Regions from separate parts of the Homo sapiens genome. Here region 2 is linked to region 1. Evidence: fine-mapped expression QTL. Tissue or cell type: left ventricle. Region 1 holds a variant in brackets; the other region holds the start of a gene. All regions are shown on one strand. Distances are from middle to middle.

The links. PIP is the estimated chance that this variant, and not a neighbour inherited with it, causes the effect.
Region 2: it holds the start of FBN2, and the variant in region 1 is fine-mapped to the expression of FBN2 in left ventricle (GTEx, PIP 0.98).

What each region holds. Positions count from the first base shown.
Region 1 is chr5:128,669,738-128,685,302 of GRCh38, reverse strand. The region is part of intron 2 of LOC105379168 (a long non-coding RNA gene); the gene reads right to left. Among named protein-coding and RNA genes, the nearest start is that of FBN2, 140 kb to the right of the region's middle. RefSeq lists an enhancer at 13,838-14,362. The variant G/A (reference allele first, on the strand shown) is at 5,626.
Region 2 is chr5:128,529,192-128,544,756 of GRCh38, reverse strand. FBN2 (fibrillin 2) reads left to right here and starts at 6,512. Exons shown (of 65, transcript NM_001999.4): 1 at 6,512-7,407; 2 at 8,273-8,355; 3 at 14,064-14,162. The coding sequence starts at 7,154. RefSeq lists enhancers at 5,686-6,186, 7,912-8,842.

The DNA of each region.
Region 1 (15,565 bases):
AGGTAAACTACTGATGAAAAAACAAAACAAAACAAAACTACCCAGGGAAGCTATTCAATGCCCTGTGCAATGAGACATTCTCAGAGAGAATCATGATAAAGAAAAGATGTGGCTGAATAGCATTAGGCATGGATCCAAAATTCATTCACATAGTTTGGTGATTTCATTTGCAATTCCAGGAAGTTAGTTTGTGGTAAATCTTTGTTCTTATATTCCATCAGATATTTTTAAAATTGGAAAAGCCTCTGAGAAATGACATAGAGAATTAATGATACCTCAATACACTCTTGGCAAGTAAGGAAACAGATCTGAATAATTATCACCCATTCCAGTTGTGAATTTATTGTGAAAATTCTGATGCAATTATTTTTATGTTAAAATAATAAAGTTGAAATAATCTACTGGAATGTTGCCTTTGGAACTTATAGTAGGAAAGATGTCGGCACAGCCACAAACTTCTAAATCTGCCCCTGTAGTTTTTCTTTGAAGATGAAATAACTAAATAGATAATAACTGTATCAAATAGATTTGTAACATGGTATGAATGGGAATTCAGTTTTTGTTTGTTTTTGCTATGATGGCTTCAAAGTAAGATAATTACTTCTTAATTTCAATACTATGAAGTAAGTAAAAAATCCCAGATCAATTTTGAATACAAGAGTAACATTTAAAAGAATTTCCTAGTTGAGCTCAGTTTAAAATTGATAATATAGCATCTTAGTAAAATATAACATATCCAGTCCAATTCTTTTCTTTAATACTATCCAACATATCTTCCATTTAAGAAAATATTTGAGCAAAAATTGGAGTGAGAGTAGGGTGGAAAAGAACCATTGTGGAATGGGGTGGGAGGGAAATATTTCAGCAAATACTTTGCGTCAGAGCCTTGCCCGCATTAATTTTTCAAAATAAAATAATCCTGGGAGATACAAATCATTATTCTCATTTTTACAGATAAGAAAAGTAAATCTCAGAGACGTTAAATAGCCTGCTGAATATTACCTGACCAGTATTCAAATCAACTAACTCTGTTAACTCTAAAATCCATGCACTTTCTGCCACCACACAGATGTTGAATGACAAGGGGTAAAATTAAGATAAATGGCAAATTATCAACTCCTAGGAGTATTACATAGCACTAAAATTATACTTTTGAAATCTAACATTTTAAGAAATATGATAATTATTGCATGAACGAGGAGAATTCCAAATGTAGCCATCCTATGATTATTATTATGTAAAAAAAAATTTAAGTTGATTTCGTAAGATAGTAGTAGGATTATAAAGAATTCTAAATATATCTTTTATCATTGTTCTAGAGATATCTGTGAAAAAATATATACATGTAGAAAGGGGGAGAATATCTGTTTCTTGAATATGGTCAAAATGAATGTTTTGGGATACAATTTAAAATTGAGAATGCATTTTTACATAATGGATTCAAATATGTTATCTCATTTAATCCTCACAAATATATGAAATAAGATAATTATTATCCACATTTTACAGCTGAAGAAACTGAAGAAGTAATAGATTAAGTAACTTGCCCTCAGTTATCCAGTTGTCCAGCTAACTACTGATGGAGGCAAGTATTGAGCCCACAGCTCATATTTTAACCATAGAACCTATGCTGCTAATATTTAGGAAAGACAAAATGCATCAACAGTGCTTGTTTTATGGAAATAAAAAGTGGATGATGATAGATTACATAACAATGATAAAATGACAGGCTAATATAAAATACCAAAGCAGTAAAAAAGACAGAGCTAACAAGCCAAAAATAATCAAACATTAGAAATAATTCCAAAAGAGTCACTAACACTAATATGGTATCACAAAGGCTAACCACATAAAAGGATGTGTAGAGAAAAACATAAACACATCTTACTGAAGTTAGCAAAAATAAATAAGTTATAAATATATTATATATTAAGATTGACACTTAAGAAACAATTGAACAGTTACAGATGCCAAAGAGAAAATGTGAGAATGGAATGAGAATTCTGTACATAAGAATAAAAAGGAGATGAAATGGGTAAATATGATGAATAAATGGAGGAGAAAATTTTGTACCTGATATTTACATGTATTTTATAGCTAATTCTGCAATAATCCACAATTGGATTGCATTGACTTGAGTTTTGTCTCAACAAGAATTTCCATATGTTTTGGTAACATACCGTGGTAGAGGTCAGGAACTCATCTTCCAGTCTTCCCTTACCCTCATCTATGTTACCTCAGGCACTGACTTAGCCTCCCCTGTCCTCAGTTTCCTCATCTGCAGAGAAGGAAGTAGAGATGGGAGGCTGTCTAAGCTCATCCTGTGGGTGCAAGTAATTTCTGAACTGTATTTCACTAGTCCTGTTTTTTGAGCACAGTGACAGAAAAAAACACGAAAAAGAGAGATGAGCTGTAGTAACACTTATGGCAGTAGTCTAAACAAAATGACTGCCTATTGCTCAATACAGCTATTCGAATCTATATTCCCCCTATGTATTTATCAATTCCTTTTTCTATATGGTGAATTGTTTTAATACACCCAACTTTAACTGCACATCATGAATCTCAAGGATCATACAGAGAAAGAGGCTTCAGAGGCAGGTAGACTGTGTTAGAATGTTCTGCCCTGATGCTTGCTGAGAATTTTGCTTAATTTCCCTGAGCCTTAGTTTCCTCATCTACGAACAAATATTATCCACTTTAAGAATTAAAATGAGGATTAATGAAATAAATGATGTGAATTAGCTAGCCCAAAGACTGCCACTTAGTAAGGAATTTAATAAGTGGCCGCTATTACCAGGGCACTACACCACAGGGGGGTTAGTGAGTAATGTGAACCGGCCGTACCAGTTGAGCAGCAATCAGATTTAAAGACTGAGAGAAATAAAACAGGCAAGTGTCCATTTTCCCGGGTTTATGGAGACAGACTACAAAGTGGAAGTATGCCAAAAAAAAAAATTTAGAGAGAAGTAGATTACAAAAACACAAAGAAATCAACACAGGAGAATGCAGATAAATGTGGGAGAAAAAGGCTAAGCTAAGAGGAAAACTATTTTGATTCTGATTCAAGTATGTGACTGATAAAGCCGTGACCCTTCCCAGGCTGGGTGAGTGGTGGTCCCTGAGTTTAAATGTGATCCCAAGAACATACTGACCCAGATCTGGTTTTAGTGACTCTATACACAGAGTCGATGGCAATTTTAAAATATGAAAAGACTTTAGTTACAAGACAAAAACTGTTGCAAATTTTTTGCTTTAAATAAGAAGTGTGAACACATGCACTGCTTCCCACTAAGTAAATGCAGACACCAAAGAGAAGGAAAGCCCCTGGCTTCCCCAAAGTCTTTAAACATACCCCAGAGTGACTGCTCTATAAGGTCATCAAGGGTACCTCAAGCTATAGAGGAATCACTTTGTTCTTTAGCGACTAAAGTGAGTACTTAGAAACCAATGACAAACTACACAGGAAATGCTTAATGTTGAAAAATGTATGCATGTAAATGTCCACAGATCAATTAATATAAGCTGTACTTTCTCATCTTCCTGCTTTTGTTCTTATTCTTTTCTGCCTGAAGAGCTCTGCTTTTCACAGTTTATACAGTTTCCAAGTTTCAGCTCCAATGGTATCATCTTTGGGAAGTTTATTTCTCCAGAACCATAATCTATGTGATTATTTTCCACCACTGGAACTTCCCATATCATCACTTACATATTTATCTGATATACATTTTGCTTTATATTATATCATTTTTTGCTTCTTTTTTTTCTCATCAGGTTGTAAGCTTTTCTAGGGTAGATAATTGATTTGATTGTCACCACTGCTAAGTACACATTTTCCCATGTCGTAGGTACTCACTAAATATTTGTTGAGCGAATGTTGTATCACAAAATTTATCAACAGCGCTCTACCATTTTAAATGCTAAAGAATGTGACAAAAATGTAGTAGCAGGACTCCTTCTACTGTATCTCTCTGGAATGATTGTTGGTCATTCAACAATCATTCCAAAACCACAACAGCTCCTAGGCCAGAAACTCTGGGTCTTCAACGTGAAGTTAGTTTCACAAGCTTTTTTCAGATCACGTGAAACTTCCTCTTTCTTCTGGGACATTTATCATCTTTTTTGCCTGATCAGTTTAAACAAGCTTGTTATATTCAGGGTCACAAAAGTCAACATATTTAAGGCTTTGTGTGTAAGTCCATTAATTAATTTATTTAGTAAATATACTGAGCATTCCTATAAGCCACATAGCAAGGATTAAAGATTAATAAACAGAAAACTCTCCCATCAAGGAATTCCTGATATAGCAGAAGAGACAATGTTGGTTGGGCACAGTGGCTCATACCTGCAATCCCAGCATTTTGGGAGGCTGAGGCACCAGCCTGCGTAACATAGTGAGACCCTCATCTCTACAAAAAAAAATAATAATAATAAAGAAAATTAGCCAGGCTCCCACTTGAGCCCAGGAGTTAGAGCCTGCAGTGAGCCATAATTGTGTCACTGCACTCCACCCTGGGCAACAGAGCAAGATTCTGTCTCTTCAAAACAATAAACAAACAAGGAGAGGAGAAAACATTCCATGAGGTCAGCGACCATGTCCACCTCACACATCCTCATTGCTTGACACAGATCCTGGCACATCTGGGGCACTCAGTCAGTATATGTTGAGTTAAAGAATTAACTAAAAGTGACATGTCATGCAGAGGTATGGGTAACATTGGTTGGTAGCACATGGAAGGCAGGAATTTGTTCTGTAAGACGGAGGAGTGACAGGGGAAGGAATGACTTTAGAGAAGAAAGGGTGCCATTACCAGGTCTCGAATGATGAAGAGAAATGTATTAAATTAAGAAAGAATAAGCACTGACCAGGCTGAGTGAACAACAGGGGAGACGTGAAGGTGTATGATAGGCCATCTAGTGTGACCCATCGGTTTTAACCTTCTTTGGATTGGAGATCATTTTTAAGAATGTGTTGACACCTTTGACCAAATTGCTTCAGAAAAATAAATAAATAACCATATGTAAAAGGGAGTTTTCCTGCATAGTTTTGGCAGAGGTTCAAAGGCCCAAAGGTAGGTACCACATACCTCCATGTTCGGAACTAAGGTACTACACTACCTATGCAGGATTTGCAAAAACTAACCCTAACTCTTTATGCTTCATGTAGCTGCAGGTAATACAAGAGGTTCAGGGGAAAAGAACATTAACATAAGGTGAGAGAATGCTGCGAGGAGTTCGGGCTGAGGTGTTTTCTTCATTGCTTCAGGTGGGGAAGGGAAGAAGTGGAGCCAAGTGGTAGGGCTACAGGGGATCCACTCAGAGTACTTGCTTGGGAGACACAGGGAAATAGGCTCTATGTCATGACAGAAATACAAAGACCCTGAGTGGCTGGGAGCAGCAATGCAGAGAAAGGGCAGAATTGGGAACAAGATGCTTCTCTGCCAAGATAGGTGAGCAGTCCTTTGAGCCAAAGGGCACCACAGGAGGAAACTGGCCTAGGCTCCCTTTAAAAGGGCTCTGCCCAGTAGTACTATCTGTGAGGAAAGATGTCAGTGAGCAAAATGACCCCCCAAAAAGGTGGACTTCCAAGGCCTGGGGGCCGAGGTGGCTGGCTGTATGAGGGAA[G/A]GTGACATTGGATATTTCCAGAAGTGGAACGTTCCTGGAAACCCACAAAAAATGTACCAAGAAGAAAAAGCCCTGGTGAGCCACCAGTACCAAATTTCAACAATACCTGCCAAAGTCTCTTTCACAAATCGCCTTTCCCCCAGCCAGGTGTGAAAGAATCAGAATCTTAGCCAGTAAATTGTGAAGTGCTGGCAAAGCAAGGAGAAAAAAAGACAATGGGCTTTCCAGACTTAAAGCCATTCAAAGCTAGGGCAGAGGGAAGTTCTAAATTACCAAAGAGTTTGCAGTTTTTATTGTTACTCTGGTCTGGACTGTCAAATACAAAACGTATCTGGACTTTGTAAGGAGAGACTTTCTTTCAAAGGATTATTGCAAGGTAAGGAAAGGGACTATTGCAATAGAGGCATGGGATGATTACAGTAGGGAGAACACTCTGACAGTAAGACATGAAAGCACCTCAAGGGTTAGGCAAAGAGTGTATCTGCTATCGGGAGGAGTGGACAGGGCTACAAAGAACTGGTGTTGACAAGTGGATGAAAGAATGGTATGATCAGAGATTGTTTTGCCTTGAAGCCAGCCTACTCTCAGGAGACCTTGTATGTAGCTCAGGCTGGGGAGAGGGGAGCTCAGGGCCCTGGAGGAAAGAGGGAAACTCAACAAAAGTTTGGTTAATAAGTATTTTGTTCTGATTGACCAGTAGGGACAAGTAGTTCAATGAATTATTTCTAAGTCAAAGAATGAGAATTTGCAGTCTGTGTCGTAGGTAAACAAAGAGTCATCGAGTCTTCTCTAAGTCACAGGGGGCAGGGTGGTAATGTCCAAAGAGCTACTTCAGAACACAAAACAGTGGGAGAATTTCTTAACCATCACTGTTTACCAATAGCACAAGACTCAGGTAAAATTCAACATTGTGAGGACTTTGCAGTTTCTGAAATAAGATTGTAGCTATGATTGAAAAGAATCAGAAAGTTTATTAAAATTGCGAAAATTATATCCAAGGGCAAGAAAAACTAGCCCACTGGACATGCTTGAAAGGATGGCAGCTGATTAAATCCCTTTGAGTCCAGCTCATCTGACAGCTACACATGTGAACACCCAGTTGCATGCAAAACTTCAGGGCTTTCTCAGGTCCCAGGCTAAATGAGAATCACTCAGCTAGGAGTTTTAGGGGATCCAGCAAGGGCAAACTGAAGCAGAAGAAGCACCATGCCTACTCAAGCAGCCTTGTTGGTTCTCTGAATCAGATAAATAAGATACGAAGTTTGCCTTTTAGGAGCTTTTACCCCAAGGAGAAATTTAAAAAAAGAAATATAAATAAGTTATTATAATATAATAGAAATGTACAAACACCACAAGAGATGAAGGGATTTAGAGGAAAAAGAAAATTCCCATAACCCAAGAGCTCTGAAAATTCTGAGGAAAGGAGCATGATTTTTTTTTCCCTGGGAGCATCAGGAGAGGTTTTATGAAAGGATAGCCCAAATCTGATGTTGGTCCAGTACAAGATTAGAGAAGACGAAGAAAGAAGATGCCCAGGCATTCCAGGTGAGGTTAACAATATGCACAGGTGGGAGGCAGGGCCTGAAAGGGCCTGTTTGTGGACTTGCAAGTAGTTATGGACACAGGAAAAGAAGATGGGGAGATGGCATTCCCAAGGAGGTGGTAATCCATGAATGCCACACACTAATGCAGTTTCATGCAACTTTCTTTCAGCATGAAAGAATATGCCCCAGAAAATATTTGACAGACAAATGGCATGATCAGATTTGTGCCTCAAGAAAAATAAGTGACATTAATATTTGAAAAGAATTGAAGAGAGAGGCCTGGAGTTAAGATGGGTTGGTGCTATATTTGACACATAAAGTGCATCACTTTTTAACACCTACCTCCTCTTTATAACAAACTTATTTTCAGTAATAAACATAAAATGAGATAAATAAGGACAATGGCTAGAAAAGAAATGGAACCATTAAGATTTTCTTTTCTAAAACTTTACAATGTAATTATACCACTAAAAAAATTAAAAACAAAATCAGTAAAAGAGAGCAATATATAGTATGTATTATGGTATACACTTGTAAATGTCTAAAATATTTTTGGAAAAAGAGAAAAATCTTATACATGCATGTTTATTTGACACAATAATGAATATTAACATTACAGTTTCTGTTAAAAGCCTTGATTTCTGCAACTTTATCAAAATCAATAGTTTTTCATATTCCTGTTCCATAGCAAATATAGCTATATTTATCAATCTCTCTTCATTCAAAGTTGACTAAAGAACATGTTTTGTTAATTTTAAGTTTCAAAATTTTATTTTATCTGAAGCAACCAATATACTACAGGTTGTTTCAAACAGTCTCAGACATAAGTTTGGCAGAGAGTCATAAAAATCCTATTTCACAATAATTTCAGAAAATTTAAATGCAAATAACTCTTAATGGTCATGAAATGGAATTAATTCAAATTCTGCTTTTTTATCTTCACAGACCTTGAGTTATAATTGTTCATTTCAGATCAACTGTTTAAATGCAGGAATAGGTAGTACTACAAGATCGGAATACTTGAATCACGCCTGGAACATGCTTGCATACTTCCAACCTGCTATGTATGTTCTCTGTGGGCAAAGACTGAATCTGTATGTCAGGGGTAAGCTGTATAACTGAAAGTTCTCTGGATTAATGCCTATGTACAATACAGTGTTTATTGAAAGTGTATTCATCAGTTTTCATGTTGCTAATAAAGACATACCTGAGACTGGGTAATTTATACAGGAAATAGTTTTAATGGACTCACAGTTCCACATGGCTGGGGAGGCCTCACGTTCATGGCAGAAGGTAAGGAGGAGCAAGTCATCTCTTACATGAATGGCATCAGGCAAAGTGAGAACTTGTGCAGGGAAACTCCCCATTATAAAGCCATCAGATCTCATGAGACTTATTCACCATCACGAGAACAGTATGAGAAGGACCCACCCCCATGATTCAATTACCTCTCACTAGGTACCTCCCTCAACACATGGGAATTGTGGGAGCTACAATTCAAGATGAGATTTGGGTGGGGACACAGCCAAACCTTATCAAAAGGTAGGTAACATAAATGTGCTGATTTTAAGCTACTATAAATTGATGTTACTGTTGAAACTCAACAACAATAGCAGCTATTCTTTAGAACATATACCAAAAAAGGATTTTTTAGAAGAGAAGCATTTTATCACTGACATTATTTAGGGTTATAAGTGCAGGATATAATAACAAACAAATGTTCTTTCAGTTATTTACACAGTTAACTTTAAATTCTCTGTAATTTAAAATGCACTATTTTATTACCTGTAACCAACGAGATGGTTTCTTCTAGCCTGCCCTTGAATCTTCCACAGAGAAGGGAAAGGAAAATGGTAACTGGCATTTTAAAGTATCAACACTGTGCCAAACAGGGTGTTAGATTCTTTGAAGAGATTATTATTTCTCCTTTTTAAGATGCATATTAAGATCAATTGCCAAAGATCACACAGCAAAGTAAGTGGTGAAACTGGAATTCAAACTGAGGTTTCTCTGACTCCAAAACATATAATATCTTCAATCTACCACATTGTTTCTTTACAGAGGATGGGAGGGAGATAAGTTTAAGGCTGTGGCAAAATTTGGATGAGATGTAATTGAGCTTGGGTTTTGGCAGTGTCAGGGGAATGCAGAGAAAAGCATGGTGGGAGGTCATATTGCAAGACCAGATGGACCAAATCTGGCAACATATTGGATGTGGGAACATGACAGATGATAAAATCCAAGTTTTGAAGCCTGGGGAAAGCACAGACAGGCAACTAAGACACTAACAACTAGCAGTTGCCAAAATCTGACTGAAATTACAGTGAGATATGGAAGTATCTACCGACCAGGACCCTTATTAGAGACCTATATGTGCAGAGTTAACACTTTGATAAGCTGCTTGGTATTGATAGGTAATGTTGTCTATAAACAGTAAATGATCACAAATTGCTTTCTAAGAATGGGGAATTGACTTACTCATAGAACTTTCACTTTGCTGAGTAGGAAATGCAAGTTTGGAGGCAGAGCTGAATTGCTCAGGAGGGCAGAGATGTGGCTAAGGTAGCTATGATCCTCAGTGCCATGCATCATGACTTGCCTTTGTAAGCTCAGTCTCTTTTCTAAATAAAGAATAAAAAATGTTTTTCAAATATAATGGCTTGAAGTGTCACCAAATTACTAGCTTTCAAAGTGCCCCTACATACTATAAGGGTAGTATTGCTTGAAAAATAATTTAGATGATAGATAGACAAACAGACAGTGAGAATAAAGTAGCAGGTTTTCAAGAGCCAATCTGCAGTAATTCATGTAGGCTCACAGCAATTTAGGGCCACTCTGTTCATGCCATTTGGATTAATGGCATTTTTCTCAGGCAACATTAATTCACAGGATACTTCTTTCTGATACTTACATTTCTTTTCTTATGTGGGTGGGATCTTGTTTCTTTTCTTCTTATCTATTATTGCCACTGGCCTTTACTGATAAGAATACAGTAGGTTGTATTTACCTTCCTAGCAATCTACTGGTTGAATTTCCATGGAGCCCCACTAACGACCTGCAGGGAGGAAACTGTACTGACAACAACTGCCACTATGGGGCAGCAGGGAGCTATATCCCTGCATATCTCAGAGTATCATTGATTTCACAGTCCTAGGAGGAAACACACATTCGATAACTAGTTATAGTTTTTTCCCCCCCAATACTTTTATATGGTCGATTCTTATATGATAGGTATGTTTGGCTGCCTCTAAGTCTTTATAAAAAAATATCTATTCCTACTCTACATAAAAAGAAACTTAAATACCTCGAATCTTGGTCTTTAATGACATTTACCAATGTGACTAGATGGTCTGTATCAATCATTCACAGGATCCTGAGAATCATTTAAATTTTGAAAAGTTTACTCTTTCCCACACCTGAAACATCACATTCTACTTTTGGTCAGTAATAGCTAACATTTCTGGAGCTCATATGTGCCACACACAGTTCTAGGCACTTTACATGCATTGGCTTATTTACTCTTCACAACTCTCTGAGGTAGCTTTGGTTTTGAACCTTTTTACATATGAAAAAACTAATTACAGAAGACAAAACAGTCCAAAAAGCATACTATAGCTAACAAGGAAAGCATGGATTTGAACCCAGGTAGTGTTGTTTGGCCCTAGATCCCATGCTCTGAACCAACATTCATTTCACTCATAAAATCTGAGGCAGACTTTCATAATAAAAATATGACTTAAAAATTAAAATGTAATGAACTTCATTGTACCATGAAAGCCTAGAGGGTGTGACAGGTCTACAAAAATCACAAATTCTGAGATGATTCAGCAAGACCCATCTCTAAAATATGGAGCGAACTAAGAAAGACAGGAAGGAAAAAAACTACTTTGAAAGGGTTAAGGATTCCAGAAGGCTGTAATAGCAGGTTTGCAATCAAGGGCCACCATAAAGAAACAGCAGGAGGCGGGGAGGTAATCTTGGTCATGCTGTGAGTGCACAAGTCTTTAGTTTAGAATTGTGTCAAACCACCCAGAAAGCTGTGTTTAAACTTTGTTCCATTTCAGAATGGACATGGTATTTTTTTCTGAAGCCAGAAACTGAAGATCAACTTAAAGCACTTGATTCAATAGAACCTCGCTGAAAAGTTGGAAAGGGTTTTTGCTAAGAGGTTTCAGTCAGGATAAGTCTATTTTTCATCATAAAATAAAATACAAATTATCCATACCATTTAGCAGCAAAAAGCTTTTGAACCCACCTCCCAAGTAAAACCACAACATTCTTCAATTCTGCTTTCTGGTAGGTCAATCAATGTGGCAAAAAAAAAAAAAAAAAAAAAGTACATGTTTAATACCTCAATGTGCCACTGCCTGAGTCCCTTTACCCATTTGGAAGAGAGATTCATTTCGGCTATCCATGCTCTTTTGTTCATGTCTGTGGGCATAACTGGATTTTTTTTCAGGTGCAGGAAAGTGTCTCTGGGGAGCATAGTTTGTGCAATTATGTGTTTCCAAGCAAGAAAGCCAAATTGAGGTTTGGAAGAGCTACACAAAAATGATGTTGGTAATAATTTCCATGGCAAGTTGATCCAATCTGAAAATGGGATTTTATTTTTGTGTATCCTATGTCTTTTAACCAACCTTTCTGAATCCTGATTGATTCATGCAAATCTATGAAAGATCAGGTTTTTTCAGGATGTAGAGTCAGAATAATACTCATTATTTAACCCGCTACAAAGAACACTAATATTTGGCAATTCTGCTCTTACGGAGTATCATTTCTGTTAAATAAGAAAAATCTGAGAAAGGGGAAAATGTAGAGGTTTCCCTATTTCTCCAGGAAATAGACTTCACCCTGAAAGCTGAAATCCTATGCTCATTGTTTTCTACTGAGGACTAGCTGAACAGCAATAGTAGACTTATCTCAGTCACGTGCTGCTATGAGAGTAGCAGCCAAACACCTCTCAGGGGAATCAATATATAAATTTTTGTTTTTAAAAAGTTTTTTTATGACAGCAGACAGCTGCCTTCTGTCTATTTAATAAAGTTGTTTCTATTTAAAGCAAAGATAGAAGTTAGGTAACTATTGAAGAAATTAACTTTCAAAGCACGTTTTCTAATTAACTTTTCTGCTAATGATGACCTGGAGCCTTTTTGTAGATTTGGTTTCATAAGCTTTACTTTATATCTGTCTACCTATGGAAGCATCAATTCTCTTACTCTCTCTGAATGCTAACTGGATCCAATAGTTCCCTAGCTTGTCTCAAACAAACCTGGTTCCCCACAATCCACAATGTCAAGACTGCTAGTTTCTCCCCAGTTTTTCCCCTTGAGCACATCTGACTGGTTTTACAAAGGGAATCACAACACGCTGTCCTTTCTGTCCCAGCTTGCCCAGAGCCCTAAATTTGGGTGAAAGACATTTATTTTACAACTGGAACTGTAAAGAATCCAAACCCTTATTCTTTCTGACTAAACATATTCTTCTCAGATGCATTAAATATTTTCAAATCTCAGTGTGATTATGTTAAAAGAAAAATCATGGAATTTCTCAAAATTGTAAATGTTATTAAGGTGAGATTCTCAGATATGCTCTCATCTGAGATGAAAACAAAACTGAAAGCCCAGGTCCCTTGAAAGAAAAGAATAGCTCCTTTGTATGTGTTCACTGTAAACACACAATAAAGTTCAAAAATGCATCCACAGTCAATGTTTCAACTACGGAGAAACAAAGACTGGAAAGAAAAAACAAGAATTTAATGATGCCTGTAAAAACATCCTATGTGAAAATAATGCCACCCACCATCACTTTTTTCTTTTTTTTTTCTTTTGCTAACTACAGCATAGTTTTTCAAAGAATCTTTGGCATCTCTAGATGATAAATTATGTGAATTATTGTTGGATCAAAATTCCTTTGAAATAACTGCAGGTGTTCAAGATCCTGTCAGAGCAAATGTATTTTAAGTACCCTGAGGACGCTGACATCCAGCCATTTCTCAGCCTTCTTTGAGGTAGAGCTCCTGTTGGGAGTGGCCTGGTTTAAATTGGAGACATATGGAGAGCTACTCAACGAAGACTGGGGAAGTCTATCCAATTGGCATGGAATTAGAATCTGACTCCTTCTGATTTAACTCCATATCTGTGGTTCTTTTTTCTGCTATGTATTCTCCCCTTTATTTCTTAATTCATAGTAAAATGCTTCAGAGATTATCTCATTGCTAGGTTGCGAACTACAGCTTCTTAGGAACATAATTTAGTGGACAGAATTATATTAATTATGATGTGATCTGCATTGGACAACTCATTTATATACATATTTTATTTTCTTTGGGGGTCTTTACAAAAAACAGGTTTAAAGATTTTGGTGTTTTAATTAGTATAAGCAGTAAAACCTAGCAGGTGCTTCTACTTATTAAGAGAATGAATGAATGAATGTTATCTTGTATTTTAAGAGAAAGGTAAGGGAATTAAATATATATAGCAAATTATGAGTCACATGAGCATATTACATGAAGAAATTATGTGTCTCATTAAATTCTTACATAATAATTAGAAGAAAAATATTATTGTTCACACATCGATTAAGAAAATTGAGGGTCAGGAAACAAATTGTACAATATCACACAAATAGTAAGTAACAAGAAAATATTTTTTCCAGCTTCACTTTACTCCGACCAACGACCATTCTCTTTTCATTTTATTTCAAATTTTCCTGCTGAGTAGCTGGGACTACAGATGCACACCACCACACCACTCTATTTTTTTTTTTTTTTTTTTTTGTAGTAGAGACAGGATCTCACTGTCAGGCCTCTGAGCCCAAGCTAAACCATCATATCCCCTGTGACCTGTACACATCCAGATGGCCGGTTCCTGCCTTAACTGATGACATTCCACCACAAAAGAAGCGAAAATGGCCAGTCCTTGCCTTAAGTGATGACATTACCTTGTGAAAGTCCTTTTCCTAGCTCATCCTGGCTCAAACACCTCCCCCACTGAGCACCTTGCGACCCCCACTCCTGCTCGCCAGAGAACAAACCCCCTTTGACTGTAATTTTCCTTTATCTACCCAAATCCTACAAAACGGCCCCAACCTTATCTCCCTTCGCTGACTCTCTTTTTGGACTCAGCCTGCCTGCACCAGGTGAAATAAACAGCCGTGTTGCTCACACAAAGCCTGTTTGGTGGTCTCTTCACAAGGACGCGAGTGAAATTTGGTGCTGTGACTCGGATTCGAACCAACAGGACTTAATTAACCTCACCTTCTAGGTGTACAATAATAGAGTAGAGGCAGCCAAGTAGCAACATATTTCTGAGTTGCAATTCCTTGCCTCCACTGTGAGAGAAACCCCAGCCACATCTCCAGCACACAAGAACTTCCAAACGCCCAAACTGCCGTGGCCAGGCATTCCTCCAGGCCCGCCTCCCCCAGGAGCCTGCCTCCCCCAGGAGCCTGCTACAAGGGCCAGAAATCTGGCCACCAGGCCAAGGAATGCCCACAGCCCGGGATTCCTCCTAAGCCATGTCCCATCTGTGCGGGACCCCACTGAAAATTGGACTGTTCAACTCACCTGGCTCATCTTGGCTCAAAAAGCTCCCCCACCAAGCACCTTGCAACCCCCACTCCTGCCCGCCAGAGAACAAATCCCCTTTGACTGTAATTTTCCTTTATCTACCCAAATCCAATAAAACGGCCCCACCTTTATCTCCCTTCACTGACTCTCTTTTCGGACTCAGCCCGCCTGCACCCAGGTGAAATAAACAGCCTTGTTGCTCACACAAAGCCTGTTTGGTGGTCTCTTCACAGGGACACAAGTGAAACTCACTATGTTGCCCAGGCTGGTCTCCAATTCCTGAGCTCAAGTGATCCTCCCAGCTTGGCCTCTCAAAGTGCTGGGATTACAGACATAAGCCATTGCACCAGGTCTTATTCTTCTTTACCATGTTTTTAATTTTGAATTATGTACTCACATTTGAATGTCTATGTTTTCCCTATGGAAATCCTATCAGTTCTGAGTTAAGGATTTTATTTGCTTCTTTCAAGTGCCTTTAGGCACCTGTATCTCATGTGAATGCTCACCAAAGAGTAACCACAGCAGAGGAAGACTTTACTAATCAAGTGGATAGGATGACTCATACTGTTGATTTAGAACTGGTGGTGGCTTTCCCCAGCCAATCCTGCCATTGCCCAATAAGCTCATGAACAATGTGGCCATGGTGGCAGGAATGGAGTGGATGCACGAGCTGAGCAACATAAACTTTCACTCAGCAAGGTCAACCTGGTTATGCCATCGATGATTTTCCAAACTGCCAGCATCAGAGACCAACATGGAGCCCCCAAGATGGCACCAGTCCCCAGGCTAATCAGCCAGATACCTGACAGGCTGGTTTTATTCAACCTCT
Region 2 (15,565 bases), 140 kb after region 1:
GACAGTTCTTTACTTTCTTTCAGCACTGAAGAAATGGGTGTCACTCCCTTCTGGCTTCCACACTTTTTGATGTAAAATCTGCTATCATTTGAATTGTTTTTTTCCAGAAAGGACAAGTAAAGTGTCCTTTCTTTCGCTGCTTTCATGATTTTTTTCTTTGCCTTTAATTTTCAAAACTTGGACTATGATGAGTCTTGATGTGAATGCCTTTGGGTTTATTCTGTTTAGGACTTATTAGGCTTATTGAATCTGTATATTTATGCAAAGCCCAAAATTTGAAAATGTTTCACCATTATTTATTCTCCAAGTAATTTTTCAGCAGCTTTATCCTCTTTCTCTTCCTTTGAAATTCAGATAATCAAATGTTACATATTTTATTATAGTCTCATAGCTCCCTAAGGCTGTTTGATTTTTCAGTGTATATACTCTTCATTGTTCAGTTTGAGTGATTTCTATTTTTCTATCTTCAAGTTCACTGATTCTTTCCTCTGCTCTCTGAATTTTGCTGTGAAACCCATCTATTAAGTTTTAAAATTTTGTTTTATTTTTAAATTCTAAAATTTTCATTTGGTTCTTCTTTATGTCTTCTATTTCTGTGCTGATGCTTTCTACTTTCTTTCTTTTATCATCTGTTTCAAGAGTTTTACAATGGCCCACTGATGCATTTTTATTGTAGTTGCTTTAAGAATATTGTCAGACAATTCTAACATCTGTGTCATCTCAGTGTTGATGTGTATTGATTTTCTTTTCTCATTTAAGTTAAGATCTTCCTGGTTCTTTCAATGATAAATGATTTTCAGTTGAATCTTGGAATTAAAAAAAATTGCTGGTAAATAGTAGGTGTATATGAATCTTGGACATTTTTTACTTTATTTTGTGAGACTTTGGGTTATATTTAAATTCTTTGTTTTAGCAGCCTCCTCTGATACTGCAATGGTGGGCAGACAGGGCAAGGGATGCCTCATTACTGCTAGATGACGGTGGAAGTCCAAGATCTACATGCAGCCTCTGTTGACACTCTTGAGGGGAGGAGTAACTTGTTATTTATTACTGGGCAGGGGTGACAGTACAGGGTCACCACTCAAGCTCTTCTGTACCACTCTGGCTAGGACAGTGGTGTTTCATTACTGCTCCCAATGTAGTTTCCCATGATATTCCATGACACCTTGGTGGTGGTGGGATGGCCTCATTACTGCTGGGCAGTGAGAAGATTCCTGAGCATCTACTAGGTATCTTCTGACACCATCCCAGCAGACAGGGGCATCTCATTACTGTTAGGTGGAGGTGGAAGTCCAGCTTCTCCACTGACACCATGGGGAGAAGGTGGCTCACGACTGTGCAGGGGGATGAAAGTCTGAGCTTTCCACTTGGCTTTCTCTGACACTATCCAGGAGAAGGGGAGGGATACCTTGCTACACCCTGGTAAGGATGAAAGTCTAGGCTCCTTACTTGGCCATTGTTGGTAAAGGTGACTACAGTTTTTTTCTGTGGTTTGGTTAGGGCAGTTATTGTCTAAAAGTGTTTTGTCTTTCTAGGCTATCCCTTTCTTGTCTTTTGGCTAGAGAGGGCAGGCTTTCTTTCGAGGCTTTCTTTGGTCTGTTGCCAATGGCATTTCCAAATTGCCAGATTTCCTAGCACTCATTCTGGGATACAAAAAGCAAAAGACAATTCAGGAAAACCACCATCATGTCATTCCTCAGGTTCCAAGGTCACTAGCAGGGTAACTAGTCTGCCTTCTTCTCCCTACCATTTACAGTCTTCTTATGTGTGCATGCTCTCTCTCTCCACATATATTTATTTATGTTTAGTTAAGTATACTTGCCAAGAGGAATAAAGTACATCTAATCCACTCTGCCTTTGTTCTTCTTGCAGTATTTTGAATCAAACCCAGGCATCCTATCATTTCATCTATAAAGACTTTAGTAAGTATAACATTAGCCAGTATATTAAAAATATAACAATGATTCCATTGTCACATCTCCCAAAATTAAAAATAAATATTTAATATCTAGTAACCAGTGTTCAGTTCAGTGTTCTATCACTACATAACAAATTACCCCTAAAGTTATAGGTTTAAAAAATTTATTTTGCCTTAGCCTTTTATGGGTCAGGAACTCAGAAGAGTTTGCCTGGGTAGTTCTTACTTGGGGTGTCTCACGCAGTTGCAGTTATATATTGACTGTAGCTGCAACCATATAAATAAGACTTACTAGACTGGATGATAGCATCAAAAATGTTATTTTTCACTAACATTCATATCAAAATCCCAGATAAGGGGCAAGCATTGCTTTTGGTGGTTGTGCCATAACAGTTCCCCTCCCTCTTCTCTACTGATGTCATTTATTTGAAGAACTTGGTCTTGTGGTATATCCCATTCTAGATCTGGTTACCTATATTCTCAAGGTATCATTTAATATGTTTCATGGTCCTCTATTGTTCTTGGAAACTGGGAGTTAAATGTAGAGATATGGTTACATTCAGGCTCAGTTTTTTTGACAAAGATATTTCATAGGTGGTCTGTGTACCTCCTATTGCACCATAAAAATAAAAACATAATGTCTGGTTGTCTTACTTTTCATAAGTTAATAATTAATCAGTAGGTTCTGGTGGTAACAGCTTGACACATTCACTAAAAAGTTCCCAATTGACTTTTTGATGCACGGCTTCCCAAGTAAATTTGTATTTTGGACCAGATAATGCTTTGCTATGGGAGACTGGCCTGTACATCGTAGAATGTTTAGCAGCATCTCTGATACTCTCATCACCACTCCCACACACTGTCTTGTTGTGACAATAAAAAATGTCTCCAATTACTGCCAAATATACCCTGAGGAAAAATGGCCACAAGTTGAACACTTCTTACCTAATGGTTTTAGCAGTTGTTAAAAACCGTTGCCTAGGTCCATTATTTTATTAGGGTTTACAAGTAGTGATTTTTCTAATTCCATCATTCCTGCATTTACAACTGTGGTTTTTTTTTTTTTTCAAAAGAAATACTTTCTCTGGGTCTTTCTAGCAAAGGAAGAATAACTGGTTAATAATTTTATTTATCGATGCGTTTAGAATAGTGAGCTGTGCCCTAACAACCTCCAAAAGTGGCCAACTAATTTTTGTTTGGAGTATCATTCGGAAATCTTGAATACTGACACACTTCATGTATTTCAATCTTTTGCTGTCATTTCTTTTTTCTTTTTGATGCTCAAGTTTCCCCATCCTTAACCAGCAAGATCTCTTTCAACTTAGCTCAGGTTTCCTTTTGACATGACCTTAATAGTCAGATAATTTCTTGCTTTCAGGCATGACAAGACAGATAGTCCAGATTCACTTTATGCATTTCCTTTCCCAGACTTAGAATCTGCCACTCACCCAAGGAACCCTGATTCCTTTAATTTAGAAATGGTATTTAGGAACCACAATCTGGTCACAATGACCTTATGGTTTTTGGGTTGTCACTATTTCTAGGTCTTTGGAACATAGTTCCAAAGCCAGAACTATAAAACTAAGTTTATTTAGAAAGGTTTAGCTTCCACCATTGTTTCTTTCCTCATAGTCTCCCCTTTCTCTACAGATAACCATTTTTTATTAGATTTAGTTTATACTTCTTGTTTGTTGTTAAATCTATAACACACTCATACCCCTAAAAAGTAGCATACAATATTATACAGCTTTCATTTAAAAAATATTGTAAAAAATAGACATAACATAAAATTTACCATTTTAATCATTTTTAAGCGTGCAATTCAGTAGCATTAAGTACATGCACAATGTTGGACCACCGTCACCATTATCCATTTCTAACTTTTTCATCATCCTAGGCAGACCACTTTGTACTCACTAAACAATAACTCATCCTTCCCATTTTCCTGGAGCTCCTGGTAACCTTTATTCTACTTTGTCTCAATGAACTGCCTAGTCTATCTGTACCTTGCTTTTTTTTTATTTTAGTAGACTGTATATGCTAGAGATCACTCTCTAAGAGCATACAGAGTTTCTCTTCATTCATATTTGACAGCTGCATAATACTTCACTGAATAGATGAAGTCATACACAACAGTTGCTTGTTCATGGGAAGTTTGTGTTTCTAGTCTTTCACTATTATAAACAGTGCTGCAAAGAACAGTCAAATGTATGCACCATTTCATTTTTTTTTGTCTATGTATCTTTTATATAGGTTCCTAAAAGTGGAATTGCTGGATCAAAGGGTAAAGGCATAGGCAATTCTAGAGCATTTAGATTTAATGTGATGGACAGGAATGAACCATGAAGCCACGTAAGTATTAAACAACAGCAACAACAACAAAAAAAGCAGATACAGGATGTTTTAAATGGTATGACTAAAACACTGCTTTAAACCAGGAGATAGTTACATTAGTTAGCTCTTTTAGTTTAAATAATTTTATTATTTGAAGCGAAGTACGTGAAAATAACTGTATTGCTCTTTCTCTGGATTTTAACAAATCGGTGTCTCACATGAAATTATGTAACTCTTATCTTTTCTTCTGCTTTATGAGAATACTGTAACAAGGGGTACTACCTTCAGACCCTTTGACTACATGGAGAAATAAAGGAGGGAGTTGTGCCAATTACTGGAGAATTTTGGCTGTCAAATAGCACATCTGGGCAATTTGGGCCAGAAATACATATATATGATATATGATATATATATGATATATGATATATATGATATATGATATATACGATATATATGATATATGATATATATGATATATACGATATATGATATATACGATATATATGATATATATGATATATGATATATATGATATATATGATATATATGATATATATGATATATATGATATATGATATATATGATAGATCATATATGATCTATCATATATATCATATATCATATATCATATATATGATATATATGATCTATCATATATATGATATATCATATATGATCTATCATATATATGATATCATATATATGATATATGATATATATGATATATGATATATATCATATATATGTTATGTGTATATATGTATATATGTACGTGTATATATATACACACACACACACACACACACCCTCCTATACATATTCAACATTTTCCCCTTTAAACTAAGGTTTTCTAGGCTTGAATAAACCAGACACTGCTCTTTTGTACTGTTTCGCAAACTGTGCTTGGATGGTCTCTCCTTGTTTTCAGGAGTGTTTGATTTTTAAATTGTGATATTCCACTAAATGAGAAATGACCAGGACTTCACAGAGATTTCATGAAAGGAGGGCCACAAAGGAAGAACCCAGAGCAGGCCGGTGAGAGGCACTCTAAGAGGTACAGAGGGTTGCACCAATTGCTAGGATTTAATCAATCAGAAGGGGTCCAAGCCAGGAAGCAAGGGCATGCCCCGAGCCTCATTTACCCGCCTTGTCACCACCCTGCCCGCTAGTACATTTCAGAGTCTCTAACCCCTCCCTGCATGCAAGCCCAGGCAGAGTCCTGCCAGGTTTCACACCAGAGCACACCCCTGCACGGACTCCCCAGGACCGCGGCGCCGGCTGGCTGCCTCGGCCCCCCGCGGCCGCGTGAGCTCCCTCTTGGTGGTGGAGGGCGCATTTCAATCTGGAAACTCCCAGCCCCTAATTTGGTCCCGCAGACTGACGCCGCTCCCGGTGGGGCGGTGGGGGTAGGAGGGCAAAGGGGAGGTCTCCTCCTTCTTGGATTGAGGCTGCAACCAACAGCCCCGTGAGCCTCTATTCCTGGCTGACTGCGAATCCCCCCATCCCAGGTCAGGGGCCGGGACCCTACAGAAAGACCCGTTCTCATCCTCAACCTTGCGGCCTCTGTCCGGCGGGGAAGTTCAGCTGCGGGTCAGTTCAGCTGCGGGTCCGGCCAAGCCTGGCGCGCTTAGGCACCCTAGTCCCTGGTCCGCGGCCGGGCGAGGACGGAGGGGGAGGGGAAGGGGCTGCTGCCTCCTTTCCCAAATCCGGTCCCTAATCGCCCCATCCCCCGCCGTCTACTCGCTTTGTACAGGCAGTCAAAACAGAGCTAGCGGCCAATTGACGGGGACGGGAAGCAAAGCCGCCTAGCGCCTCGCCCCCTCCAGCCGGCCCCCCGGGCCCCTCCTCTCGGCGCCCGGACCTTGGCCCTCCCTCTCCTTTCCCACTTCTCTCTTTGCCCTAACTTCGCCCCCATCCCCCGCTCATTTCCTCTCGCACCCGGGCTCGCCAATCCCTCTTTCCAAGTCCCTCTTCCAGCCCGGCCTTCCTCTCGGGTTCGCCCCCCTTCTCCCCAATCTCCGTCCTCTTCCCTCCCTTCGCCCTCCCCCCCTTCCTTCCTCTTCCCCTCACCCAACCCTGGTTCCCCTCGTTCCTCAGTCCCGATCTCTCCCTTACTCTGTCCCCGCCCACTCTGCGCCGGCCTCTCAGTCCGGGTTGAGCCCCACGTGTGGACGGCCGCGCCCCCACTGACAGCCGCCGCCCGCCGGCCCGCCCCGCGCCCCGCCGGGCCTCTAAAACCCCCGCGCCGCGCCCTCCACCGCCGCATCTTCTCCAGCGCCCAGCCTCCCGCCCTCTCTCTTGCTGGCCGCACGCCCCGGCCCCGCGCACCTCCGCCCGGCTCCGCAGCCGCTACCCGCGCTTCGTTGCCCTGTGGGACTCCGAGCGAGCCCGGAGGGAACCCTCCTCTTCTTCTGGGGGCGACTTTTGTTTGCTTGCCTGTTTCTTTCTGGTGACTTTTGCAGCTTTCCAATATCCGTCTTCGGAGCGCACGGGAATCCGCCGAGCTCTGCGTGCAGGCCCTTTTTTCTTTTGAGGTTCACATTTTTTGAAATTTTACGCCAGGGCTTTTGTAATTTCCTCCCCCGCCCGCTGACGGTCCTGGAGTCGCTCGGGGCTTTAGGCCGGTTATGCAACGTGTACCGCTCGGGGCTGCCGGCTGCACCTCCGCCGCGCCTCGCCGCTCACTGCGCTAGACCCGGCGCCCCGCGTCTCGCTTCGCGGGCAGTCAGGGGGCCGGCGCTCTGTCGAGGTCTCCAGCTAGAGCAGGGAGCCCGAGCCCGAGGGAGTCCCCGGAGCCGACGAAGGGCTTATTAGACCCTGACTCTTTTCTGAGGCGCGCAGATTTTGTCTTTGATCACTCCCTCTCCGCGGGTCTACGGCCGCGCGCTTTCGGCGCCGGCGATGGGGAGAAGACGGAGGCTGTGTCTCCAGCTCTACTTCCTGTGGCTGGGCTGTGTGGTGCTCTGGGCGCAGGGCACGGCCGGCCAGCCTCAGCCTCCTCCGCCCAAGCCGCCCCGGCCCCAGCCGCCGCCGCAACAGGTTCGGTCCGCTACAGCAGGCTCTGAAGGCGGGTTTCTAGCGCCCGAGTATCGCGAGGAGGGTGCCGCAGTGGCCAGCCGCGTCCGCCGGCGAGGACAGCAGGACGTGCTCCGAGGGTAAGTGGGCAAGCGGCTCCGCACCTAGGGCTCCGGCTTGGGGGAGGGGGGAATCCTCAGTTTGGCGGCTTTCTGGCCCACTCCGTCCCAGACCCTTTAGCTGGAGCCTAGAGCTGCAGCCCCCTTTGCCAGAATATCCAAAGACCCCCAGGAGCGCGTCCCCCTTTTCCTTCCCAACCCCGCAGCTCAGCGGGCGGAAAGCCCTCTCTCCGGGGGTTGGGCGGCGGGTGGTTAGGGGGTCCAGGGGTGCCGATCGCAGAGCGTGTGCAGAGCTCGCGCTGCGGGAACAGGTTCTGAATGTCCGGCGGCAGGCGGGCCTGGGTCCGCCTGCTGCAGGGGCCAGAGAAGCCTGCTTGCTCCCCACGTCGGGGCCGCCGCTCGTGAGCCTTTTGTTTGAGGACGTGTGCAGGGTTCACAGCTCACCTTCTCATCGTCAACCCGAGCGCTCCACCTTGCGACGCGCTTTCCTTGACACGTCGGGGCCAAAGTAACAGTTGACCAAGGAGGAATGGATTTGGGAAGGAGGGCAAGGATTCTTTGGAACGGAATGGTCCCTTTGTTCTCTGCATCTGGAAGCTAGAATAGTAGCAAATTATATGTTTCCATGCCTCTTTTCGCCCTTTAAAAAGGCAGGCAAGGGACGACAGATGAAAGGCAGTGTTTAGACATTTCTGACCCTCCTGCATTCCAGCATCTAGCTCTTTTGCTTCCACGTCTGCCTCCCGATCTCCAATAATTTGAAGTGTAATTTTGATTTGTTTGTTGTCCTGAAATCTACTCGCTCGGGGCATTGCTTACGAAGACCGTTTATATGTTGCTGCATCCCTCTACCTATCTGTTACGTGACCGCGCTTGTCCATCACAGGCCCAACGTGTGCGGCTCCAGATTCCACTCCTACTGCTGCCCTGGATGGAAGACGCTCCCTGGAGGAAACCAGTGCATTGTCCGTGAGTGCTTGGCAGGGATCGCAGCTTGGGGCAGCGCACTCGGCCCTATCTCCGGCCGACCTCTTGCACTCAGCCATTTGGACGCATAGTTGCGTTTAAAATCAAGTGATCACATTGCACTGATAATCGGGACGCGGCCCCATTTGAATAGTGGGGAAGACTCAACCGGTTTGAGTCAGTTCAGACTTCACTTCTAGACTCTGTTGAAGGGCAATAATGATAAAGATTTCAAAGATAATTGAAAGTTTTATCTTTCTATGTCTATTAATACAAATTGGAAGAGGGGAGGAGTAGAGCAATTATCTAGATAACTCAAAACCACTTTTTCTGTAAAAAATCCAGATGAGACCACATGTTATTATGCAAATTATCAGGCTTTTAACTCTGCTTGAGGTTTGGGCCTTATGAAGATCAAGATTTCTTAGGCATTTATATAAAACCACTTTCTTATTTCTGGTTTTATATCAACAACCACATAACCTAGATACGAAAGGAGCATTCTCGCGGATTTAGTGTTGACCTAAGTTAACAAACTTTTAAAAGACAGAACTCTTACAAAGGGGCTTGAGTTTTTTTTTTTTTTTGCTTTTTGGAAGACGTTTAAATTTAGGGTTTCCAGACCCTGAACCTCAATAGTGTGCAGTAGATTTCCAAAGTATGAATCTTAGACCTTGAAAAATTCTGTATCTCTGACCTTAAAAGTTTTGATTATTTTATTCTGTTTCCAAAGTGTATAACCAGTTCTCCAAGTTCTAATTGGAGAGCTCATTAGTTATCAGCCTCACAGTCACGGACTCTGGGATGTCTTATTTCATATGCCTGTAAATTTGTGACTTGCAGTGTGACTGGCCTTCTCCTGTGTGTTTATGTAGCACAACCACATTTGTCTTGTTGGAAGGAGAGCCAGGTATCATAGACAGCACATTCATTTAGAGCCAGTCTTGACTTTAGATTGACCTCCATGTTCTCCAGGGAGAAAATAATTATGCAACTGTGAACAGAGAAAAAGGGCAAGGCACACTAACCAAGGGATAATAAGGATGTAGTGGCATTTCTAACTCTGTATTTATTGGTTTTGTGGTTTTGAGATAGATGCTTAATGTTATTTCTGGGCAGTTTTTAAAAAAGAGATGAAATCTCCAGTGTCATAAAGACTAATTTCTTCTTATTTTTTCTACCTTAACATCCCACTATTTCCAATGGCAAAAATAGGAAACAACTGTGTTATTTAAAGTGACTTATAAATATTTTGAACAAATCCTCTGATTATAATAAGCCTTTGCTTTATTTTTTAAAAGAACATGTTCTGCATTCTTTTCTCTCCAACACAGAAGTCATATGTGAGGCATTAATGGAGGGTGGGTTTACTCTTTCAGGCCAGTAGGGCATTACCATGGCTGCTTTAAACTTACACGGTTTTTTAGACTCCTGAAACAGCTAACGTCACTCATCACACACCTGCCATACTAGCTGGGAGTGACTTAGGCACGGCGGAAAGTCTGACTCACTAAATGTAATGAATGTGACTGCCATTATTGAGTTGGAGAGCAGCCGAGGAGGAGGGATTGGTTCATGGTACGTGTTGAAAATCTGTAAAGTCAGATTTTATTGGATCAGTGTGGAATGGGAATTCCAGAGAGCAGAGCCTTCCAGAATATTTGCAGTAGAAATATATGTATGGCCCCACTGATCACTGGTAGAAAATCAGCTTTGAAAATCTCAGGGTAACAGTGACTATTGTAATCTGCATTTCTGAGACTTGAAATATTTGGATGGTTATGAGCTACATTGGAATTTACACGTATCAGAAATCTATGAGAGTAAACTTTGAAATGATCTTTATATCTGTAAGAAACATTTATAACACTTGTGTCAAGACGTATCTACAAAAATATTTATTAGAAACACATCTAAAAATTCTAAGTACCTAAGATTATTAAACAGTGCACAAAATAGGGACAGTGTAATACCTTTATATTCTATTGCATGAGTCTCATTTAATGCTAATAGCCTGCATTCAATTCAGTAGTTCAATTAGTCTGACATTTAAAATGATCATATGTAGAGGTAATAAGTGAAATGAAACCGTTATAAACTCAAAATCAAGAATTTTAATTCCAGGCCTTCCTGATGATAATGAATTAAGTAAATTATTATATTTATTGGATTTATCTGTATCACACCATTTAGCAAAAGAAAGTATCTGAGACCATTTACAAAAAAGAAAATAAATAAAATACAAATAAATAAAAACCAAATATTAATTTTCTCATACATTTGTACCTCAGCATTCTTTTAATATAGAAAAATAAAAAATGGTCAACAGAATTTTAGTGTTTGACAGGCTTTATAAGGAGAAGATATTAAAAAGAAACTGTAATTCTCCAAGTTCTGGAAACCTAATGCATTTTGATTTGAGTCTCTATGTTTTGTTGGTATTGTGCTTAGTTGTAGCCTAGAAAAATTACTGAAGTACTTCCAAACTTCCAAATATTCATTTCCAAAAGTACGGAATTGACTTTCTCACCTTTTTTTTTTTAATCTTCTTAGAACATGAAGCAATGAAACAATTTGCTTATTAATTTATTTATTGTGAAATTATGCTATGAACAGTATTTTGATCAATATAATAAGAGTGGGATGAGGTTGGCTGGACTAAATAACATTTGAGACCTGAGGAAACATCAGAGCATTCCGGTATAATTCCTTTATGTTATGCTACCAAATGAAAACACTGAACCCAGAAAGGCTGTGGGTTTTTCTGGAGCTCATAGCAGATCAATGGCAGAGTGACAACTAAACTTCAGACCTTTTGGGTACTATGTATTCTTTACCTGGCCATGTGACTTCTCACAGCATCACTGAAGTCTCAGCCCCTAGGTCCTGTCTCCCTCTCCCTCTGGTATTTCTAGGTCTCATAGTTTTAGTAATTGTGGGAGGGACGTATTCAGTAAGTGTACCATAGTCTGAGGCTGTTGTGGGGCAAAAGGGCCTCAGCATTCTTGCTTCTCATTGGCTCACAGATACAGAGTATATACCTGTATCCACGACAGGTAAATGCCTGAGAATGCTCAGTCTCCAGCCCATCAAACCTTCATTTGGTTTGGAACCCGGGTGGAGGTACTTTGGGTCTCCTCTCTTAAGCCTAGACTAAATATTGGCCTTCTGGGGAGGAGGAAACTTTGAAATAAAACAATGTTTTAATGCACATTTGTCATTGGAGAGTTACTGGTGATCAGAAACTGTAGTACATTTTAAGAAGTAAGAGTCAACTCCATGGCAGGAAACATATTCTTGCCTAAAATATTTTTATCTTAACATCACAGTATTTGACACTATTCACTTTTTCTTTTTTTATTAATTTGAGACAGGATCTGGCTGTCATCCAGACTGGAATGCAGTGGCATGATCACAGCTCACTGCAGCCTTGACCTCTCGGGCTCAAGCTGCATTCTGACCTCAGCCTCCTGAGTAGCTGGGACTATGGGCACATGCCAATGTGCAAGGCTAATTTTTAAAAAAATTTTCGTAGCGTTGGGGTCTGCCCAGGCTGATCTCCAACTTCTAGGCTCAAGTGATCCATTTGCCTAAGGCTCCCAAGGTGCTGGGATTACAGACATGAGCCACCATACCCAGCCCACTGTTTTCATTTATAAGAAGTACTAATGCTAGTAGTAATATATGGATATCAGAAGGCATCTTGGAGAAGAAAAACAATTAGTGAGTTAGTTTACTTCTGCAGGAAATGCTTTTTTCATTGTTGAGGGTCCCAAATCTCTTTGAAAGTTGTGGGACCTTTCCCTAACTACAGCCAGTTTCAGAGCATTTCCAGACTTTCTTCTTGTCTTTATATATCCAGTCATGGCATGAGCATTAAAGTACACAGCCCTTGTGCCGAAAGAGAGAACTCAATTATGGTTATAGAGAGAAATCTCTCAGCTCCTAAATGAACTGTCTCTAAACATGGGAGAGACTTCCCATTCGAAGGTACTTGGCTACAAGTGTGGAGTATCTGTGGAATGTATTGTGTCAGTGAGCCTAACATTCTTTGCTGTGATGACCCTCATACCTTTCTGTTCATTGGAGGTCACAGCTGCAGGAGGCTTTGACTCTCCCCACCATCAAAATGCCACAGTAGCTTTTCTGAGCAGTAGGAATACGCTAGGTTGTGGAGATAATATGGAAGGAGAAAGGCTGTAGGAAGGAGAGGGAATTATTGAGGGGACCAAAGATTGATCACAGGGTAGGTCAGATACCAGCCTGGAAGGAATGTGTGTGGAACCCTTGAGGCTTGGCCAAGTCATTAGAACTGGAGCCTCTGGTTCAGCCAATTTCATGTTGTCTGTCTCCTGTGAAGGCTTTTGCATAGTGGGCTGTATTTTCTCTATTCCTGCAACCCTCCCAACTACTTAGAATCAAGGCTGTCTTCTCTGGGTGAATTCTGCATTTTAAACTCTCAGTCTTTAATGAAAGAGACAACCTGTATTGATAAGACAATTAAAGATTTAGGATTATGCAATTTTTTTTTCCTTATTGCAAAGCTTTAACTGTTTATTAAAAAAGTAATAATCCATACATAAGCCCATCATGCAGTGAGATCCATTGTACTGTTTGGTGAAAGTTCTTTTAGACCTTTTAAAGCCAGTAAATATGTGTGTGTATATATATATATATATATACACACATACATATATATACACTTATATATACATACATATATATACACACACACGCACACATATATATGTATTTTAAACTTAAAAAGCCTGTGCTTTATTTTATTCTACCATGTTTTCATTCTGTAACGTTTACTTACATATGACTTTATTTTTGTTTCTATTTTTCCATAAGTTATTGGGGTACAGGTAGTATTTAGTTGCACGAATATGTCCTTTAGTGGTGATTTGTGAGATTTTGGTGCATCCATCACCTGAGCAGTGTCCACTGCACCATATTTGTAGTCCTTTATCCCTCACCTCCTCCCACTCTTTCCTCCAAGTCCCCAAAGTCCATTATATCATTCTTATGCCTTTGTGTCCTCATAGCTTAGCTCCCACATATCAGTGAGAACATACAGTGTTTGCTTTTCCATTCCTGAATTACATCACTTAGAATAATAAGTCTCCAGTCACATCCAGGTCACTACAAATGCTGTTAATTCATTCATTTTTATGGCCGCATAGTATTCCATTATATATATGGTGATATATATATTATATGTATCACAGTTATATATATATATCACCATATATATATAACAGTTTCTTTATCCACTTGTTGATTGAAGGGCATTTGGGTTGGTTCCACGATTTTTCAGTTGTGAATTGTGCTGCTATTAACATGCATGTACAAGTATCTTTTTCGAATAATGACTTCCTTTCCTCTGGGTAGATACCCAGTAGTGGTATTGCTGGATCAAATGGTAGTTCTACTTTTACAGCCACTATGGAAAACAGTGTGGAGATTCCTTAAAGGATTATGCAATTTGAAACAGCTTCATTTGTTTACACGTTTTCATAAGGATACCTGTGAGACTTATTCCCAAGTCTGCAATGGGTAATTTTATTGCATATCTGAAGTTAGACATTTATATCATATATTTTATCTTAGTTTTTCAGGCTTTTTATTTTTAAATACAGCTTTCTTGTTTTGTAAACTATGGTTTATTATATAGTTATTCATTCATTTTCCTATTGTGCTTTCTACAGCGATTTGTAGAAATAGTTGTGGAGATGGATTTTGTTCCCGTCCTAACATGTGTACTTGTTCCAGTGGGCAAATATCATCAACCTGTGGATCAAAATCAAGTATGTTTCTTACTTGTGGCCTTTTCACTGCATTTTTCTTAAGCTTTGGAGCAAATGCTAAAGGTCCTTCTATGTGCCAGGGAGTTTTAACTGTTATTACTTTAGTTAATCCTTACATCAACATTATGAGATACTGTTAATACCCCATTTTACAGAATAGCAAAGTAAAGCACACATAATTTAATTAACTGGCCCAAGGAAACACAGACTTGAATCCAGGTATTCTGATGCCTAAGTGTATAGTCTCAAACACTAGACTGTATTTGTTGCCTTTGCTTAACATGTGTTTTGTGGGTTATCTAAGGGGGAAGGAGAGGAGAACTCCAAAGGCAGCATGTGTTTATTGAGTACTGACCACATACTTTACACATAATGGACCTATTTTGCTTCACATGTATTAACTGCCAACAACTTCATAAGATAATTATAACTGTGGACTATGATTGTGTGATTCATGACCCAATTAGAAATTGTTGGGTCCTTAAGGTCGAAGATTAATCTTTGAGGCTAGTATTTAAGATAACATTATAACAAGGCAGAAGCAAGATTGTTTATTTAATTGCTCAATAATTAAATAAATGCTTTCTTAAGTCTTGCCTCAAACTAGTGTGAAGTCATTATATTTTTAATACATCTTTCTTCAAATTTTCCCTAAAAGAAGGTAATATAGTATGTCTGACTCAGGAATAAGATTCAGGATTCATACATCAAATGCCATTGTCTTCTGATGAAACTCCTGATGAAAACTCTCTTAATTTCACTTCCTTTGAATCTGCCATTTCCTCAGCTTTTAAAACCTACCATTCAAATTCATCAAGATTTCTTGACCACTTTAACCAGAACATTTCATCCCCAACTTAACCTGAACCTCTCTTTCTTGCCTGATTACCTACAAGATACTGTTGCCAGTATGTTCATTATCCTGTTCCTAGTTTTCTCATATTTGCCTTTGGCAAAAAACACAATGCTGGAGGAATTTTAAGATTCAGTTTCTTAATTCCTCTACCTGGGAGCTGGGACATTCTCTGGTCCACTCTTTGCTTGTGGTATATAATTTAGCAGGGAATCTGTGCATTCATTTGGCCTTGGGCAATCCTTCCATTTCATCAGGAACTTTTCTAACCCTCCCAATCATCATCCTGTTTGACCTTGCTAAAGCTTTTGGCACTATTAATCATTATCTTCTTGAAATGTTGTTTTTCATTTTCTTTGAAACACCCTTGACTTTTAAAATGCCAGTGGCCTTCAGTGCTCCTTTTCTTGATCATTCCTTTTTAGTCTCTTTTCTATGTCTTCATCAGTCTTTCATTCAAGGTTTGGTATTCCTGAGTTCTGCCCTCCCTGGGTGAACTCATGTTTTCAATGACTACCAATCTGTTGATAACTCATAATATTTATCTACA